2 linked regions of the Homo sapiens genome follow. The protein of the gene in region 1 purifies or fractionates together with the protein of each later gene. This does not show direct contact. Each region holds a gene or a part of one and is shown in the gene's direction. Other genes may lie near its edges. The genes, in order: ASB5 and AKR1B1.

What was found.
Region 2: the proteins of ASB5 (region 1) and AKR1B1 purify together in Homo sapiens (affinity purification with mass spectrometry, with the first as the bait; one large-scale study listed by BioGRID). This does not show direct contact.

The regions. Positions count from the first base shown.
Region 1 is NC_000004.12:176,258,957-176,262,777, reverse strand, and holds part of ASB5 (ankyrin repeat and SOCS box protein 5), read left to right. Parts: intron 1-3,821. UniProt on the Homo sapiens protein: May be a substrate-recognition component of a SCF-like ECS (Elongin-Cullin-SOCS-box protein) E3 ubiquitin-protein ligase complex which mediates the ubiquitination and subsequent proteasomal degradation of target proteins.
Region 2 is NC_000007.14:134,445,388-134,449,208, reverse strand, and holds part of AKR1B1 (aldo-keto reductase family 1 member B1), read left to right. Parts: intron 1-89; coding exon 90-212; intron 213-715; coding exon 716-822; intron 823-1,147; coding exon 1,148-1,229; exon of another isoform or gene 1,230-1,827; coding exon 1,828-1,911; intron 1,912-3,821. UniProt on the Homo sapiens protein: Catalyzes the NADPH-dependent reduction of a wide variety of carbonyl-containing compounds to their corresponding alcohols.

The DNA.
Region 1 (3,821 bases):
CAACATAATGTACTTGCCCAACACTTATTTATGTATCTACCAGGTCAAAGGCATTGTGCTAGGCCCTAAGGATAAACTATAGAAACTAACCACTGTCTTTCCCAACAGTGTACACAGTTTAGTGGAAGAAAGATGGATAGGCAAGTAATTTTAAAACATGGAAATTGCTATTTTACAAGATTAAAGAAGGTGCTATGGGAAGGTGCTATACAGAGAAATGTATGTAGAGCTAAGAATGGTTCTGCCTAGGATATGCCAGTTACACAGAAGCCATACTAACAATACACACATTCTCTCACACAACTAAGCATGCATCCTTATTCACAATGCTCAAAAACTTGCCAAGTCCCCACCTTCACTTCCTACCAACTTTTTCACTTCTCAATTTGTTATTTCTGACTCATATATCTCTTACCTAAAGCTTTATCTTAGGCTCAGAGTTCTGTTGTTAAAAGAATTTATTTTTAGGAAGGACACAAGTATGCTTTGTGAAAAATGGAAAATATTTTGATGAAAAAATTTCAAAATGGATTTTGTGTACTTTGATAGGGGACGTTGATATTGTCAACGTTTTAAAATTTTTTACATAGTAAAGATAGAAAAGGAATGAAAACTAGGTCTTAACTTTCTGCTTCTCAATTTACTATCTCTTTTAGAAGACAGTGAATTATTAAAATAAGCTATTTTTCTTATTCATTGCCATAACTGCTATAGCTTTGAATGTAGCTTAGTTGAATAAATACTGGGATATCTACTCTCTTCCTGGCACAATGTTGTGTACTACATGCACATATACCAACATATCTGTAATATATATAGTATTTAATAACTATAATATGTAATACATAACTAATATATAATATAAAATGCATACTATATCATGTATATAATTTCTGTATTATATATATGTATATGTTTGCCATGTGTGATATATGAGTAAAAGCAGAAGGCTTGGATGAGCGGAGCCAAACATTGCAGAAGTAAGACAACCTAAACAGCAAGGAGGTAGAAAACCATATGGCGCTAAAAGGAAAACAGTCAAGTTTTGCAATTGATGTTCTCCTCTAAGTCAGAAAGGGAAGAGATTGAGGTCATCTGAGACTGTAAGCACTTCATAAATAAAGCAGAGCTTAAGGCAGAAATCCAAAGGCAGAACATATTTGGTTATGTAGATGTGGAGATGAAACCAAGCTAAATATAAAGAAAAAAAGAGGAAAAGTTTAGAATGTGGAGCCAAACAAGGCTGTCTCATCTGGAGCAAAGGTGGAAGTATAAATGTCAGGGATGAAGAAACGTAAGTTGAGTGGTTGATGCTAATGGGAAAAATAAACACACATTTCGAAGCATATATCTAAAAGTCAGAAGTTCTGTTAAGAACTTTCTAATACCTTTACAGGATTCAGCATATGAAAAAGGGTCGCTAGCTAATGACGGAAATAATTACCACCATAAATATTTTACAAAATACTTGGTATAATGATTTAATATGTCATTATGTGTGTTTCATGAAGTACATCTCAGAGAAGATGGAATACCTCCCCAACACTGACTCAGCACTGCGCATCCTCAGAGTGGTTCCATGGTAATTCTGTGGACTTGGGCAACAATTTTAGCAATTAAGCCCATTTTCTAAACTGCAGAGGAGAGAAGAACAATTATCCCCAGTGACAGATAAACCATGCCATTAAAAGCAGGTGAAGTATTTGGAACACCTCTTCCTCCAAAGCCACCCTCAAATAATTTTTAAAAATTAAAAAGACAGAAAGCATTTGCTTACTAGTGATGTAGAACTTTTCGCATTTCTTGCCGACGTGGTGGCTCACGCCTGTAACCCCAGCACTATGGGAGGCTGAGGTAGGTGGATCACGAGGTCAGGAGATTGAGACCATCTTGGCCAGCAAGGTGAAACCCCATCTCTACTAAAAATACAAGAATTAGCTGGGTGTTGCAGCACGTGCCTGTAATCCCAGCTACTCGGGAGGCTGAGGAAGGAGAATCCTTGAACCTGGGAGGCGGAAGTTGCAGTGAGCCGAGATTGCGCCACTGAACTCTAGCCTGGCAACAGAGCTAGACTCCGTCTCAAAAAAACAAAACAAACAAACAAAAACAAACAACAGCAACAACAAAACAAAACATTATCAGCTGCATAGGGAACAAGTCATTTATTCTTTCCAGCCTTCCCTCAGCAATGCTACAAAGCAGACCATTGGCTTTTTAGACTGGAAATGCCCAAAGAATATCATGTCAGGGAGGGAGAGGCTTAAGGAGTATCATAAATTGTTAAATGAATACTGAAAGAATCTTCCAGGTGGTCTGTGATTAAACAAGTCCACTCTGTGAAATTTAGGTTAAAGGTGAACATTTATTAGATGATTTTTTTTCTCAATCCTCATTCTACAATTCCTCATTGGTTACCATGGAAAAGGATTTTAAAAATCTGTCTTATAGATTTAAGATAGATTAATATCCCATATTTAAGGTAGATTTAAGATTTTTCTAGAAGGCCGTCAGGGGCTCAGAAGCTAGGGTGGTGTGAGGGGGCAAGGTCCCCATGGGTCCCCTTCCCCCTTTCGAACAGAACAACTCTACTTTCATAAATCTTCATAAGTTGGGCTTTAAAATAGTAATAATTTTTTCTTCAAAGAAAGGGATAAAATAATATTTAAAACTAGACTGTCCCAGTTTATGGAAAATATTATTTGTTACACATATCTTTACAGAACCTAACCATCTGATAATATGAGTCATAGCTGAATATCCTTTCGAAATTCTTTCCTAGGGATTAGATGAGCAGCAAACATTTGGGGCCTGTCAGGCATGTACATAACTATGTGAAATGTCAGGAAGGCATCCTCTCTCTATCAGGGCAGCTAAAATTTCCATGCCACCGGTACCCACTGAGTAAAATAGAAACCTTCAGAAATACACATACTCTTTCCAGAAGGCTTATAGTCTTAAACTATGGGTAGAGTACAAACAAACTGAAATTTAACACCAAAATGCCATTCATGTTTTTAAATAGAAGCACTGGCTCACCTCAGCTGTCAAGTGTGCAGTGTGATTTAAATGAAAGCTGACAATGATAAAATTTAAGTGAAGGCCCATCCATTGGAAATCTGCTCTTCACCATCATAATGCCGCAAAGTCCCTTGTGAATTAAATCAGGTAAGGCTGTCAAAGTGAGAAAGGAAGCAATCCTTCTTCTAAAGCAGTCTCAAGACTTCTTCTAAAGCAGACTCAATGCACTACAAGAGCTGTTAAATAATGACCATGGAAACAGCGGTGACTTTGGTAGTGACTCAACCCCTCAGTAGCAACCAAATACATCTTTGATTAGCCACTGAGGAGATTTATGTGCACTTATGTTTTCCAAATTCTACTTCATTCACTAGAGAAATGGTGTTTCCGTCATTCATCAAGTAAAAGTAATAGTTCATTTTTAGAATGAAATGATGCACCTAATGAATTCTTGAATTTGGAAGTTTTGTGTCTTACTTCCATCTTGACCTGTGATCTAGAATCATGAATTTGGAAAAGGAAAAAGTGCTAATTCTTTAGAGCTCAAATACACAGGTCGCAGATCTGTTGCATCCAGGAAAGAATAAATACTTCATTGTAACTCCAAGAACTAAAAGAAAAGGAGTGAAATGAAACTGTAAGCATCTCTCTCCTTCTCTCTCTCTCCCACCCACCATAGTTATGATGAAAATGCTCAAGTAGAATCTAGTATAGGGGCTAAGTTTTCTGGCTACTTACCATTACTCAAATAAACCAACAAAACAAGACTGGCTCTGGCTGGAGAAAAAAAACCTTTACTGAAC
Region 2 (3,821 bases), on another chromosome or scaffold:
GCAGGACCCGTTAAACTGGTGCAAACGACACTTCTGATCCTGTCCTTTCTGGGTTCGTTTCTGCACCACACAGACACTTTTCTCTGTAGGCCATGGAAGAGCTGGTGGATGAAGGGCTGGTGAAAGCTATTGGCATCTCCAACTTCAACCATCTCCAGGTGGAGATGATCTTAAACAAACCTGGCTTGAAGTATAAGCCTGCAGTTAACCAGGTAAACATCCCCCAACGACACTGGCATTGCAACGTTGCTGTTTTACTGTCTGATGCTGGTAGGGATTTCTCGTCCACCTCACCCAGCAAGTGGCCAGGAGGCAGCTCCTGGGTGTTGGCAGAGTCCTGAGTTATGATTCAGCATGACACAGCACATCTGGGAGAGGAAACTTACAGGAAAGAAAGAGTTTGAGCCTGGCTTGTGACGATTTGGGGTCTGACAAAGAGGCAGCCATGAGATCCTCAGAACTGTGATAGTTGATAAGTGGCTAAAGCCAAGAAAAGCCTCTAGGGCCCATGAGAACATCTATAATAAGATAATAATAACACCAAGGATACTACCTGGGAACTGTAGGAAGTTACAGCTTATCTGGGAAATAGGGTGTTTGTTATACATAGTTTTCTGTATGGGGTAGGGAGGGACTTTAGCATAGGAAGCTTCATCTGTGTCCCATCAGCGTGTAGCCACAGTGCTCCCATCAGCTCTTGTTTTTGCATTTGCAGATTGAGTGCCACCCATATCTCACTCAGGAGAAGTTAATCCAGTACTGCCAGTCCAAAGGCATCGTGGTGACCGCCTACAGCCCCCTCGGCTCTCCTGACAGGCCCTGGTGAGCTTCCCACAGGCTCATGCTCCTGTGTCACTTGGTGAAGATTAGAAAAGACTAAAAAGAACAATTCAGCCTCAAGGAAGATGTTTCTGGGGGTGATCTGCAAAACTTCCCCTGAGCCTCTTGCTGGTTTTCCTGGAAGGGTTGGAGTTTCTAGTAGCAAGACACCTACTCTTTTTCCAAAGGGTTGGGGGTTCTTAACCCAGCTCTGAGGAGGAGACTGGTGGCTGCCCTCTGAGGTCGATGGGAGGATTAGGGTTGGGGTTTCTGGCTGCTGTGAGTGGTGGCCATGATGGTGTGACCTGGACTGTCTTTCTATCCTCAGGGCCAAGCCCGAGGACCCTTCTCTCCTGGAGGATCCCAGGATCAAGGCGATCGCAGCCAAGCACAATAAAACTACAGCCCAGGTACAGCCACTTCAGGTGTTGCTGACCGTCCACAACTGCCTGCATTCCTGACAGTCCTGTTAGCCAAGAGGAGGAAGTGACTGAGCCTGTTACACCCTCACAGGAAGTATGGTTAGGGGTCCTCAAGTACAGAGTGGAAAGGGCACAGATCGGGGTTTTAGAAGACTCTGGCATGGGCTCTTAGATTAATAGTGCCTGCCCCCACTACTGCAAGGGTGACTGCCACGAGGGCCAGCGCTTGTTCATTCATGTGGAACCTCATCTGTACAAATGTAAGAGCTCTTAGCCGTGCAGGGAATGTTCTTTCTCCTGAGTGGTAGTGTGCATTTCTAGCCAGTGGAGGGCCTCATGTGGTCTCATGATATGCCTGAGACACTGAAGCGTGTGGCACAGTGGCTAGCGCAGGACTCTGGAGTCAGATCTGGACCTGAATGCGTCGCCTACCTGTTGCTAGCTGTGACCTGACATCTTGGAGCCCCTCTCTGATCACCTGTGGAGTTCTAGCACGTCCTTCTGCAGGTTGTGTGTGTGAGAGACTGAGATGATGGGTGCGAGTGCCTGGCATGTATACACACTCACTGTCTCCTTGGGCTCACAGGTCCTGATCCGGTTCCCCATGCAGAGGAACTTGGTGGTGATCCCCAAGTCTGTGACACCAGAACGCATTGCTGAGAACTTTAAGGTAAGATCTTGGCTGGTCAGGCCTGGCCCTCCTCCATGGAGTGGGGGATGGGGGAGGCCTCTCATCCTGTCTCTGGAGTGTCATCTGTGGGATCACCACCATCCTCTCTTCTGAGGCCAGGGAGCTGTGGCGAGCAAGCCAAGACTGAGACTGACACCTCACCAGTGGAGCCGTGTGCAGGGGCAGGCCTTGGGCCTCCAGGGCCCCGTGCTGTGCACGCATACACCTACACCTTTGCTCAGGCCCTTCAGCCACACCGAGAGGTTACCCGGGGAGAATCTCGCTCTTGAGCTTCACTGCCTGGACCTGCCCTGCACTGGAGCTCTGTCAGCTACCAGCTGCATAACCCTGGGCAAGTCGCTTAACTGCTCGATGCCTCAGCTTCCCTATCTATAAAATAATATCCATTTTGAGGGTTGTTACGAAGATTAAGTGATGCATCAGAGCACTTCACATGGTGCTTAATACCTTAGTAAGTGATCGAGAAATGTTGCTGTGCTGATAAGTCCAGGGACTGCAAAGGACCCTCTGGGCCATTTAGTCCATTCACCAGCTCTGCAAGGAGTTCGTGTGATGATGGGCAGAGCCTAGACCTGTGTCAGGACTCTGGCGAAGCGCTCAGTGTGGCAGCTGGAGCAGCTCAGGCTACTTGGCGCCACCTCCCTCCCTGCCTGCCCTTGCAGCATTGGTGGCGGGGGTGTGGGGGAGGGGGGGGGCACGCCCAAAGGAGAGCAGCTCAGGGGAGTCCTGATGGCCCAAGAGCCTCTGTTCTCACTGAGCAAAGTGGCTCTGCCAGGGATGCTCTGTCTTTATCCAAGATCTGTGCCGAGCGCAGCACAGCCATGGGCCTGGGGCTCTTGGGCAGGCCCCAGCTTAGGTGAGCAGCTGATTTTGCCCAATTCCACTGCCCAAAGACTGTGGCCATAGTGCCTGCCACCTGTCACATATGAGACAGGGATGAGAGTGATCCCTGAAGAGGGAAGTGGAGCTCATTGTTTAGGAGAGGAGACGTTTTTCTTCTTACGTGCAGGTAGATGTTCTAAGTACACAAGATAAAATGGCAAAACAGTGGCCACTGAGGGAAAGGCATATCCCACCAGAGATGCATCGTTTGTTTCGTATTTCATTTTTTAAGGAATTAGGAAAGAAAAAATAAATGACTAATCTCAAAATGCTAACCTAATTATTTTATTTTTGCATCTTACTGTATAGCTTTTGCACATTTTTCTGTGATCATAACCACAGAGCCTGTAGCAGACTCTCTTTCTGCACATTCTGTGATCATCTGAAGCTAAGAGCCCTTCGGCTCTGGGAGTGTGTGTCAGCCTCTTGTGGGTCTCACCCAGTGGTGCCTGCCTGCCTCCCTCCCTCCCAGCCTCCATGCCAGCTGAGTTCTGTACCGTCTGCTGCCTTCATGCAGGTGGTTCTCTTCTCCCAGTATACCTTTCTTGCCCTCTCTGTCAAAATCTTATACTTCTTAGGCCATGTCAAATACCATCTCCTCTTCGGCTGTGGTTGTTCAGTTTCCCGGCTGGAATCCCTTTGGAATACCTCTGCCCTTCCTGTGCTGTTGAGTGTCTTATACAGTGTGTGATTAGTTATTTGTATTACAGTTGTAGAAATACCTCTGCCCTTTGTTTGCTTCATAAAATAGAGGCAAAGACACATCTTACCCATAATTATATTCCTCACTGCAACTTATCACAATAGAAGTGCTCAGTAGTGTTTTTTGAAATGAAATAAAATGTATCATTTCCCTGGGAGGTTCTGGAAAGGAAGGACTGTTTCCATCGTTCCATATATTATCTAGCCCAACATGCACATTTCCTGAATACTAATATATCAGCTTTTCCTAAGTTCAGTTTATCTTATCGCTCCTCTCTGCTCAAAGCCATGGAAGACATCTGGGT